3 linked regions of the Homo sapiens genome follow. The protein of the gene in region 1 interacts with the protein of each later gene in a biochemical or structural test. Each region holds a gene or a part of one and is shown in the gene's direction. Other genes may lie near its edges. The genes, in order: ABL2, ERBB3 and CRK.

What was found.
Region 2: the proteins of ABL2 (region 1) and ERBB3 form a complex in vitro, tested with the Homo sapiens proteins (2 studies listed by BioGRID and IntAct, with this or other methods).
Region 3: of the proteins of ABL2 (region 1) and CRK, one has a biochemical effect on the other in vitro, tested with the Homo sapiens proteins (2 studies listed by BioGRID and IntAct, with this or other methods).

What each region holds. Positions count from the first base shown.
Region 1 is NC_000001.11:179,223,114-179,226,764, reverse strand, and holds part of ABL2 (tyrosine-protein kinase ABL2), read left to right. Parts: intron 1-3,651. UniProt on the Homo sapiens protein: Non-receptor tyrosine-protein kinase that plays an ABL1-overlapping role in key processes linked to cell growth and survival such as cytoskeleton remodeling in response to extracellular stimuli, cell motility and adhesion and receptor endocytosis.
Region 2 is NC_000012.12:56,090,136-56,093,786, forward strand, and holds part of ERBB3 (receptor tyrosine-protein kinase erbB-3 isoform 1 precursor), read left to right. Parts: intron 1-2,611; coding exon 2,612-2,685; intron 2,686-2,850; coding exon 2,851-2,941; intron 2,942-3,209; coding exon 3,210-3,415; intron 3,416-3,628; coding exon 3,629-3,651. UniProt on the Homo sapiens protein: Tyrosine-protein kinase that plays an essential role as cell surface receptor for neuregulins.
Region 3 is NC_000017.11:1,449,582-1,453,232, reverse strand, and holds part of CRK (adapter molecule crk), read left to right. Parts: intron 1-3,651. UniProt on the Homo sapiens protein: Involved in cell branching and adhesion mediated by BCAR1-CRK-RAPGEF1 signaling and activation of RAP1.

The sequences.
Region 1 (3,651 bases):
ATTTAACTTTTTGTGTCTTGGACTCTTCATTTGTAAAGTGGTGATAATAATAGTACCTAGTATTAAATGAATAGTGGCTGGGCACATAGTATGAGCTAAATGTGTGTAGCTGCTGCCATTACTAATACTACTGTTATTATTAAAAACAGGAGTAATTCGGCCAGGTGCGGTGGCTCACGCCTGTAATCCCAGCACTGTGGGAGGCCGAGGTGGGCAGATCATGAGGTCAGGAGTTCGAGACCAGCCTGAGCAACATGGTGAAACCTCGTCTGTACTAAAAATAGAAAAATTAGCTGGGCATGGTGGCACGCGCCTGTAGTCCTAGCTACTCAGGAGGCTGAGACAGGAGAATCGCTTGAACCCGGGAGGTGGAGGTTGCAGTGAGCCAAGATCGCGCCACTCCAGCCTGGGTGACAGAGCGAGACTCTGTCTCAAAAAAAAAAAAAAAAAAAAAGTAGGGATAATTCAAAGATGACACCAGGATTTAGAACCTGGCTAACTGGGATGATGAAGATTCTATTGACAAGTTTGGAAGTTAGAAGCTGATTGAAAAAATGGGAATAGGTCGAGTTTATTGCCAAAGACTAGTATGAAAAGAAAGGAATTAGCAAATAATATAGGAAACAAAGGTGCAGTGAGTACTGTTTTTTAGACAGATGGGTTTAAAAAGTTTTTTTCTGTACATCATAGTTTCTTTTTTTTTTTTTTTTTTTTTTTTTTTGAGGCGGAGTCTCACTCTGTCGCCCAGGCTGGAGTGCAGTGGCGCGATCTCGGCTCACTGCAAGCTCCGCCTCCCGGGTTCACGCCATTCTCCTGCCTCAGCCTCCCGAGCAGCTGGGACTACAGGCACCTGCCACCACGCCCGGCTAATTTTTTTTTGTATTTTTAGTAGAGACAGGGTTTCACCGTGTTAGCCAAGATGGTCTTGATCTCCTGACCTCATGATCCGCCCTCTTCGGCCTCCCAAAGTGCTGGGATTACAGGCATGAGCCACCGCTTCCGGCCACGTCATAGTTTCTTAACCTCGGCGGCATTGATATTTTGGGCTGGCTAATTCTGTGTTTTGGGGGGCTGTCCTGTGCATTGTAGGATGTTTAGCAGCATCCCTGGACTCTACCCACTAGATGCCAGTAGCACCTTCTTTTTGCCCCTTACTTGTTATAAAAATGCCTCCAGACATTGTTAAATCTCTTGGGGGGCAGAATTGCCCCTAGTTGAGGACACCACTTAGAAATGTGATAGATTCTGAATTGAATGAATGAATGAATGAATTAGATTCGAAAGCTTCTCAGTGGATGTATCATTTGACCTTTACATGGTAAATGTAGGTGCTCGAATCTAGTGTACAAATTACTGTCTTGAGTTTGCCATATTGAGGTATTAGCACATAATTTCATATATGAATGTTAGGTCTGTTAGACTCTTGGGTTTACATGTAGGTTTTAATATAAGCCAAATAATACATTTAGTTAATCAGTAAAAAGGTACATACATTATGGAAATGGTTTATCAGAGTCCAGGACTTTTCTTTCTTTAGCTAAAATGGTCATTTTTTATCGTTAATAATATGTGGGTAAGCTGTGATAATAATTTGCCTTGCCAAAAGTGATTTTTGTGAATGTAATTTAGAAGGAACAAAAATAATAGAGCCATTTTTGGTATGAAAGGAGTGAGTGCTGTGTGACTTTTCTGAGATCTGCTATTTTTTTTGTCAACTCTTTTATTTTATGTTTTATTTTAGAGAAAGGTCTTGCTCTGCCACCCAGGCTGGAGTGCAGTGCTGCGATCGTAGATCGCTGCAGCCTTAAACTCCTGGACTCAAGCAATCCTCCTGCCTCAGCCTCCCGAGGAGCTGAGACTACAGGCACACGCCATCACACCTGGGTAATTTTGTGTTTTTTTTTTTTTTTTTGTAGAGACGGAGGTCTCACTATGTTGCTCAGGCTGGTCTCAAACTCCTAGGCTCAGGTGATACTCTGCCTCGGCCTCCCAAAGTGCTGGGATTATAGGCGTGAGCCACTGCGAGAGGCAAGCTCTGCTATTAAACCTTTCTGGTGAGCTGATGTTTCATGACTAATAATCTAGGGTTGAATACTTACTTGCTGTTGAATATCTCACATACCTTTTAACAGCTGAATGATTTTACTTTAGCTTCCCTCTCTCATTTTCTAAAAATTCTATTAAAAATTAACTTTAGGCTGGGCGTGGTGGCTCACACCTATAATCCCAGCACTTTGGGAGGCCGACGTGGGCAGATCACCTGAGGTCAGGAGTTCGAGATCAGCCTGGCCAACATGGTGAAACCCTGTCTCTACTAAAAAAATACAAAAATTAGCCAGGTGTGGTGGCGGGCACCTATAGTCCCAGCTACTCAGGAGGCTGAGACAGGAGAATCCCCTGAACCCCGGAGGCGGAGTTTGCAGTGAGCCGAGATCGCGCACCTGCACTCCAGCCTGGGCGACAGAGCAAGACTCCGTCTCCAAAAAAACCAACAAACAAAAACCCTTACATTATGAAGTTTGGAATAACAAAAATTTTTCCTTAAATCAAACTCATTATTTTAAGTGATCTGATTTATTTATTTATTTTTTATTTTGGATCTGTAGTTTTTTTTTTTTTTTTTTTTTTTTGTAGTGAGTAGGGTCTCACTCTCTTGCCCAGGCTGGAGTGCATTGGCGAGATCATGGCTCACTGCAGCCTTGACCTCCCAGACTCAAGTGATCCTCTCACCTCTCAGCCTCCTGAATACCTGGGACTATAGGTGCACGCCACCATGCCTTTCTATTTTTTTTTTTTTTTTGTAGAGACAGAGTTTTGCCATGTTGCCCATGGTGGTTTTGAACTCCTGGGCTCAAGTGATCTGCCTGCCTTGCCCTCCCAAAGTCCTGAGATTACAGGTGTGAGCCACCGCACCCGGCCAGTAGTTCATGTTTTAATCTTTGTGGAATGAAGGCTGTTGGCACCCCAGGTTGAAAACGATGCTATGGAAAGCACAGGAAGGCTGTTGTGAGGGAATTTTAATTGTGGTGACTTAATATAAGAACTAAACTTCATTTTTTATTTTTATTTATTTTTCTTTTTTTCTTGAGTGCCAATCCTGCAGACTAAACTTTTAAAAAAAAATCAGCTGTTAGATTTTTATTAATCTCCAAATCTGTGTAAGTTATAGATGTGTAGTTGGGGTCCATATTTTTAGCAAAGTAATAAGTTGTGGTACAGATTCTGTTCTCATAGCCCACTTGGCAGTAAAATTCCAAGTAAAGTGATGAAGTCTGAAGTTTCTCTGTAAGGGTCTTCAGCCTGCTTTATTCGATAGTTTATTTATTTACTTAGGTGGTTTTTTTTTTTTTTTGAGACAGGGTCTTGCTCTGTTGCCTAGGCTGGAGTGCTGTGGCATGATGATAGCTCACTGCAGCCTCAAACTCCTGGCTGAAGCCATTCCTGACTCAGCCTTCTGGGTAGCTGGGACTATAGGTGCGTGCTACCATGCCTGGCTAATTTTTAAATTTTTCTGTAGAGATGGGGTCTTGCTGTACTGGGCCAGGCTGGTCTTAAATTCCTAGGCTCAAGTGATTCTCCCACCTTGGCCTCCCAAAGTGCTGGGATTACAGACATGAGGCCCTGCATCTGGACTTTTTTTTTTTTTTTTTT
Region 2 (3,651 bases), on another chromosome or scaffold:
ATTATAGGTGTGTGCCATCATGCCCGGCTAATTTTTGTATTTTTAGTAGAGACAGGGTTTCACCATGTAGGCCAGGCTGGTCTCGAACTCCTGACCTCAAGTGATCCACCCGCCCCAGCTTCCCAAAGTGTTGGGATTACAAGTGTGAGCCACCGCGTCTGGCCCCCCATACACTCTTTTACCCAGATCCTCCAAATGTTAACATACCACATATGGCCGGGCACAGTGGCTCATGCCTATAATCCCAGCACTTTGGGAGGCTGAGGCAGGTGGATCACTAGGTGTGGATCACGAGGTCAAGAGATTGAGACCATCCTGGCCAACATGGTGAAACCTCATCTCTACTAAAAATACAAAAATTAGCTGGGCGTGGTGGTGTGCGCCTGTAGTCCCAGTTACTCAGGAGGCTGAGGCAGGAGAATAGCTTGAACCTGGCAGGCAGAGGTTGCAGTGAGCCGAGATCGCGGCACTGCACTCCAGCCTGGTGAAAGAGCGAGACTCTGTCCCCCGCCAAAAAAAATACCACATACGCTTTATCACTTCTCTCTCTCTCTGTCTCTCTCTACACACACACACACACACACAAAACACATGCTATTGTTTTTCTGGACCACGTGAGGGTAAATTTTCACACATGGTTCTTTCTTACCCCTGTTATATTTCAGCGTATATTCCTTAAAAATAATATTTTCTTACATAACCACAGCATAGTTGTTTGAATCGGAAAATTAACATTAACACAAAATATTATCTAAGCTACAGACCTTATTCAGATTTCACTAATTGTCCTCCTAAGGTTTGGGATCATACATTACATTCAGTTATCGTGGCACTTCAATCTCCTTTATAACAGCTCCTCAGGTTTTGTTTATCTTTCATGATATTCTTGATGAGTATAGATTAGGTAATGGGCAGCATGTTCTTCAGTTTGGATTAGTTTGATGTGTCCTCATGATTAGATTCAAGTTTTTGTAGTTTTTTTTTGAGACAAGGTCTGGCTCTATTGCCCAGGCTGGAATACAGTGGCATGATCTCAGCTCACTGCAACCTCTGCCTCCCGTGCTCAAGCGAGCACCTCAGCCCCCTGAGTAGCTGGGATTACAGGTGCATGCCACCATGCTTGGCTAATTTTATATATATATATATATATATATATATATAAATAATATATATAAATATAAATATATATATATAAATAATATATATAAATATATATAAACATAAATATTATATACTATTTATATATTTATATATGTGTGTGTATATATATATATATTTTTTTTTTTTTTTGAGACGGAGTCTCGCTCTTGTTGCCCAGGCTGGAGTGCAGTGGCGTGATCTCAGCTCACGCAACCTCCACCTCTCAGGTTCAAGCCATTCTCTATAGAGACAGGGTTGCACCATGTTGTCCAGGATGGTCTCGAACTCATGAGCTCAAGTGATCCTCCTGTCTCAGCCTCCCAAAGTGCTGGGATTATAGGCATGCGCCGCTGCCAGGCTGGAGTTTGATAAGAACACCACAGAGGCTGTGAGCTCAGGGCATCCTATTGAGGATGTACGTGATGTTGATTTGTCCCAGCACTCACAATGATGTCTCTGGTCACTTAGTTAAGGTGATATCTGTCAGGTTTTTCTACTGTAAAGTTACTATTTTTCCATTCACAATTAATGAATGTCTTGGGATAATTGCCTGAATCAATTATTGTTATGATAGTTGCCAAATGATAATTTTCTAATTCCATTATTCCTTCTGCATTTGTTTGTTGGCATTCTACTGTTAGGAAGAGTCTTTCCAGCTGAGCACAGTGGCTTATGCCTGTAATCTCAGCCCTTTGGGAGCCAGTGGGAAAATTGCTTGGGCCCAGGAGTTCAAGGTTACAGTGAGCTATGATGGCACTACTGCTCTCCAGCCAGTGCACTCACTCTGCACAACAGAGTGAGACCCTGTCTCTTAAAAAAAAAAAAAAAAAAAGGCCAGGTGCAGTGGCTCATGCCTGTAATTCCAGCACTTTGGGAGGCCGAGGCGGGCGGATCACAAGGTCAGGAGTTCAAGACCAGCCTGGCCAGCATGGTGAAACCCTGTCTCTACTAAAAATACAAAAAATTAGCCAGGCATGGTGGTGTGCTCCTGTATTCCCAGCTACTTAGGAAGCTGAGGCAGGAGAATCACTTGAACCCAGGAGGTGGAGGTTGCAGTGAGCTGAGATTGCTGCCACTGTACTCCAGCCTGGGCGATAGAGCAAGACTCTGTCTCAAAAAAAAAAAAAAAAAAAAAAAAAAAAAAAGGTCTTCCTTTCCTATTTACTCTTATGGATACTTATTTTATTCTAGTCAATGGTTATAATCCTTTACAATCATTATTTATTTTAGCCAGCCCCTCCAAGTTGGCTCCTGTGTTCTTTGGGCTGTACCCTTAATTCTTTGAGTCTTGTCTTGTTTGCACAAGATGCTCTGGGCTTATATTATATTTCCCCCATCCCAGCCATTTCTCCAAGGAATGTTTCCTTTTAGTGGAGAATGATATTTAGAAACCAAATGCTGAGGCTGGGTGTGCTCATTGCCATTGAGTTATACCTTTACCTTATTGACTGGTTTCTACTGTTCTATTCAGAGACCCCTGGCACAAGATCCCTGCCCTGGACCCAGAGAAGCTCAATGTCTTCCGGACAGTACGGGAGATCACAGGTGAGTGGCAGAGAGTTTGCCCTTTCTAGAAGAATAGGTGAACCACTGGCATAAATTGCGGTATAACTACTTGAGAAAATCACGTCCCAAGTTATAGGGGAGGAGCCAGGAGAACCCAAGAAAGAAGAAGGCTCCCTGCCCATATGCCTCTCTCCAACCCCTCAGGTTACCTGAACATCCAGTCCTGGCCGCCCCACATGCACAACTTCAGTGTTTTTTCCAATTTGACAACCATTGGAGGCAGAAGCCTCTACAAGTGAGTAAAGGGTATGGAGGAAATGGCATCTTCAGGCAATGAAGCCTGTGTCATAGGCATTCTTTAGTAAAATACAAGGCACTGTCTCATACAGCAGTGCCTCAAAACCAAAGGGTTTCAGAGTTTCACGAGGAAAAGGCAAAAGGAGGGGGATTCCCTCTCAGTGGATCTGACTAGCACTGAGCAAATTTCTTGACTAACATGAATCCTTTGAATAGTTAATGTTCCCTTAGTAGTCTCTCCTCTCATCCTGTCTCCTTATTCTCAGCCGGGGCTTCTCATTGTTGATCATGAAGAACTTGAATGTCACATCTCTGGGCTTCCGATCCCTGAAGGAAATTAGTGCTGGGCGTATCTATATAAGTGCCAATAGGCAGCTCTGCTACCACCACTCTTTGAACTGGACCAAGGTGCTTCGGGGGCCTACGGAAGAGCGACTAGACATCAAGCATAATCGGCCGCGCAGAGACTGCGGTGAGGGAAAGGGTCTGCTAGGTGGTGAGAATAGGGAGTCAGGGAGGAGAGGGCTGAAAGGACTATTCTGCCCTAGACGTGGGAGTAGGGTTGAGGGATGGAACCAAGGAGAAGGGGGCTGTTAGGCTGGAAGCAGTAACGAGGAAGAATAATGAAGAGAGGGCTTGCTGGGAGTCCTCAGACTCCTCTCCTAACCCACCCCTTCCTTTCCAGTGGCAGAGGGCAAAGTGTGTGAC
Region 3 (3,651 bases), on another chromosome or scaffold:
GAGGAAAGACGGTGAAGATTGCCAAAGTTTATGGATGGGGTGTGGAAAATTCACGAGTATTGTGATAATTCTTTCTGCCATGTTGTACCCCATTTTCTACGATTCAGTTGCTGTCTTTTTCTCTCTTCTGAGACAGAGCCTCTGTCACCCAAGCTGGAGTGCAGTGGCATGAACACAGCTCACTGCAGCCTTGACCTCCTGGGCTCAAGCCATCCTCCCACTTCATCCTCCTGAGTAGCTGGGACTCCAGGCGTATCCACCATGCCTGGTTAACTGTTGAAAATTTTTTTGTAGAGATGAGGGGTCTCACGGTATTGTCCAGGCTGGTCTCAAATTCCTGATCTCAATAGACTTCATGCTTCAGGCTCCCAAAGTTTTGGAACTGCAGGTGTGAGCCACTGTGCCTGGTCAGTTGCTGTCTTTTTTTTTTTTTTTCTTTTTGAGACCGAGTTTTTACTCTTGTCTCCCACGCTGGAGCGCAATGGCGCGATATTGGCCCACTGCAACCTCTGCCTTCTAGGTTTAATCAATTCTCCTGCCTCAGCCTCCTGAGTAGCTGGAATTACAGGCGCCCACCACCATGCTCAGCTAATTTTTGTATTTTTTTAGTAGAGATGGGGTTTCACCATGTTGGCCAGGCTGGTCTCGAACTGCTGAACTCTGATCATCCACCCACCTCGGCCTCCCAAAGTGCTGGGATTACAGACGTGAGCCACCAGCGCCTGGCCTGTCTGTATAACCTCAGAATTACTTTGTACCTCACAAATCTCAAGTACTAAGTACTGAATCTTTGTTCTCCCCCTCACCAAGTCCTTTTGAAGTCACACAGAGAAATTTCTTGAATTTTTTAGAGAGGCGTATAGAATATTAATAACTAATGTTTATTGACTGGTTATTCTGTGCCAGGTACTTTGAGTACTTTATGTACCTTATTTCACTTACTGTCTAGGACAATCTAGTGAGATAAGTAATATGATCTCCATTTATTAAAATATTCCCATTTTATACAGGAGGAAACACTCATAGATTCAGTAACTTGCTTAAGGTCACACAACTAATAAATGACTTTCAGAAGTTGAACCTAGGCATTCTGACCTGAGAGCTGACCCTTTTACACTACACTCTCAAAGCCAGCGTTCTTTTGGCATCTCAGCAGTGCACATAGAGGTCCGTATCCTCAATATCCTCAATACTTTGCCTCTGCCCTGGAGTCTAAGACTTGGTGTTTTTTGTTTTGTTGTTTTTGGATGGAGTTTCGCTCTTGCCCCCCGGGCTGCTACAGTGCAGTGGTGCAGTCTCGGCTCACTGAAACCTCTGCTTCCCAGGTTCAAGTGATTCTCCTGCCTCAGCCTCCCGAGTAGCTGGGATTACAGGCATGTGCCACTGTGCCCAGCTAATTTTTTTTTTTGTATTTTTAGTAGACACGGGGTTTCACCATGTTGGCCAGGCTGGTCTCGAACTCCTGACCTCAGGTGATCCGCCCACCTCGGCCTTGTGTTTTTTGTTTTTTTTTCCCCCCACTATGTTGCCCAAACTGGAGTGCAGTGGCTGTTGACAGGCACAGTCATAGTGCACTACAGCCCTTAACTTTGGGGCAGGCAGCCCTTCTGACTCAGGCTGTGAGTAGCTGGGACTACAGGCACATACAGCCGCATCCAGCCCAGGTTTTTTAAAGACCAGAATTAAAGAATGGCAAGAAGAGGCCGGGCGCAGTGGCTCATGCCTGTAATTCCAGCACTTTGAGAGGCCAAGGAGGGTGGATCACTTGAGGTCAAGAGTTCGAGACCAGCCTGGCCAACATGGTGAAACCTTGTTTCTACTAAAAAATACAAAAATTAGCTGGGCGTGGTGGCGGACGCCTGTAATCCTAGCTGCTGGAGAGGCTAAGGCACGAGAATCGCTTGAACCCCGGAGGCAGAGGTTGCAGTGAGCTGAGATCGTGCCACTGGCTTTATTATTCAGACAATACACATCTGCTATCTAAAGTCAATGATGAAGAAGCTTTTTAAAATTGTTATTGCTTTTTTTTTTTTTTTTTTTGAGACAGTTTCTCGCTCTGTCACCGAGGCTGGAGTATAGTGGCACGACCTCGGCTCACTGCAAGCTCCGCCCCGTGGGGTTCATGCCATTCTCCTACCTCAGCCTCCCGAGTAGCTGGGACTACAGGCGCCCGCCACCACGCCCGGCTAATTTTTTGTATTTTTAGTGGAGATGGGGTTTCACCGTGTTAGCCAGGATGGTCTCGATCTCCTGACCTTGTGATCTGCCTGCCTCGGCCTCCTAAAGTGCTGGGATTACAGGTGTGAGCCACCGCGCCCGGCCTATTTGTTTTGTTTTGTTTTGTTTGAGAGGGAGTTTCGCTCTTGTTGCCCCGTCTGGAGTGCAGTGGCGCGATCTCAGCTCACTGTACCCTCCACCTCCTGGGTTCAAGCAGTTCTCCTGCCTTAGTCTCCCAAATAGCTGGGATTACAGGCATGCGCCACCATGCCCAGCCAATTTTTTTGTATTTTTAGTACAGACGGGGTTTTGCCACGTTGTCCAGGCTGGTCTTGAACTCCTGGCCTCAAGTGATCCGCTCGCCTCGGCTTCCCCAAAGTGCTGGGATTACAGGTGTGAGCCATCGCATCTAGCCTACAGAGTATATTTTGTTTACACAGTGCATAGGTGAAAATTATATGGAATGGCTTAGGTGTCATTTTTATGTGTTTTTTTTCTTTTTTTGAGACAGAATCTCGCTCTGTCGCCCACGCCGGGCCGGAGGGCAGTGGCGCGATCTCGGCTCACTGAAAGCTCCGCCTGCCGGGTTCACGTCATTCTCCTCCCTCAGCCTCCTGAGCAGCTGGGACTACAGGCGCCCGCCACTATGCCCGGCTAATTTTTTGTATTTTTAGTAGAGAGGTGTTTCACCGTGTTAGCCAGGATGGTCTTGAGCTCCTGACCTCGTGATCCGCCCACCTTGGCCTCCCAAAGTGCTGGGATTACAGGCCTGAGCCACCGCGCCTTATTTTTTAAACTTTATTTATGTTTTGAGACAGAGTCTTGCTCTGTTGCCCAGGCTGGAGTGCAGTGGGACGATCTCAGCTCACTGCAACCTCCCCCTCCCGGGTCAAGCCATTCTCCTGCCTCAGCCTCTTGAGTAGGTAGCTGGGATTACAGGCATGCGCCACCACTCCCAGCTAATTTTTTTGTATTTTTAGTAGAGATGGGGGTTTCACCATGTTGGCCAGGCTGGTCTCGATCTCCTGACCTCAAGTAATCCACCTGCCTTGACCTCCCAAAGTGTTAGGATTACAGGCGTGAGCCACCGTGCGCAGCTGGGTATTATTTTTAAAGGCATGGGTACAGAATGGGCCAGTGATTCTCAGCCTTTTCCGTTGAACCTGTTTTTAACTTGTCTTGGGTCCTCAGCTTGCATAGGCTTCCTGTGGTGCCATAGCTTGGGAGTTCCCTGGGGCCATAAGGAAGGGCTTGGCCAAGTCTACTGGTCACATTCTGTCAGGTTGGGCTTCAAGATGGACCTCCTTGGAATGCTTGCAAGAAACTAGTTTTTTTTCTCTTGAACAGCTAAACCTTTCAGGTTGACACAGCTGAAGGAGTGTGAGTTAGGAGAGTCGTTATAAGCTTGAGCTGTGGATCCTGGGTTGGGCCTTA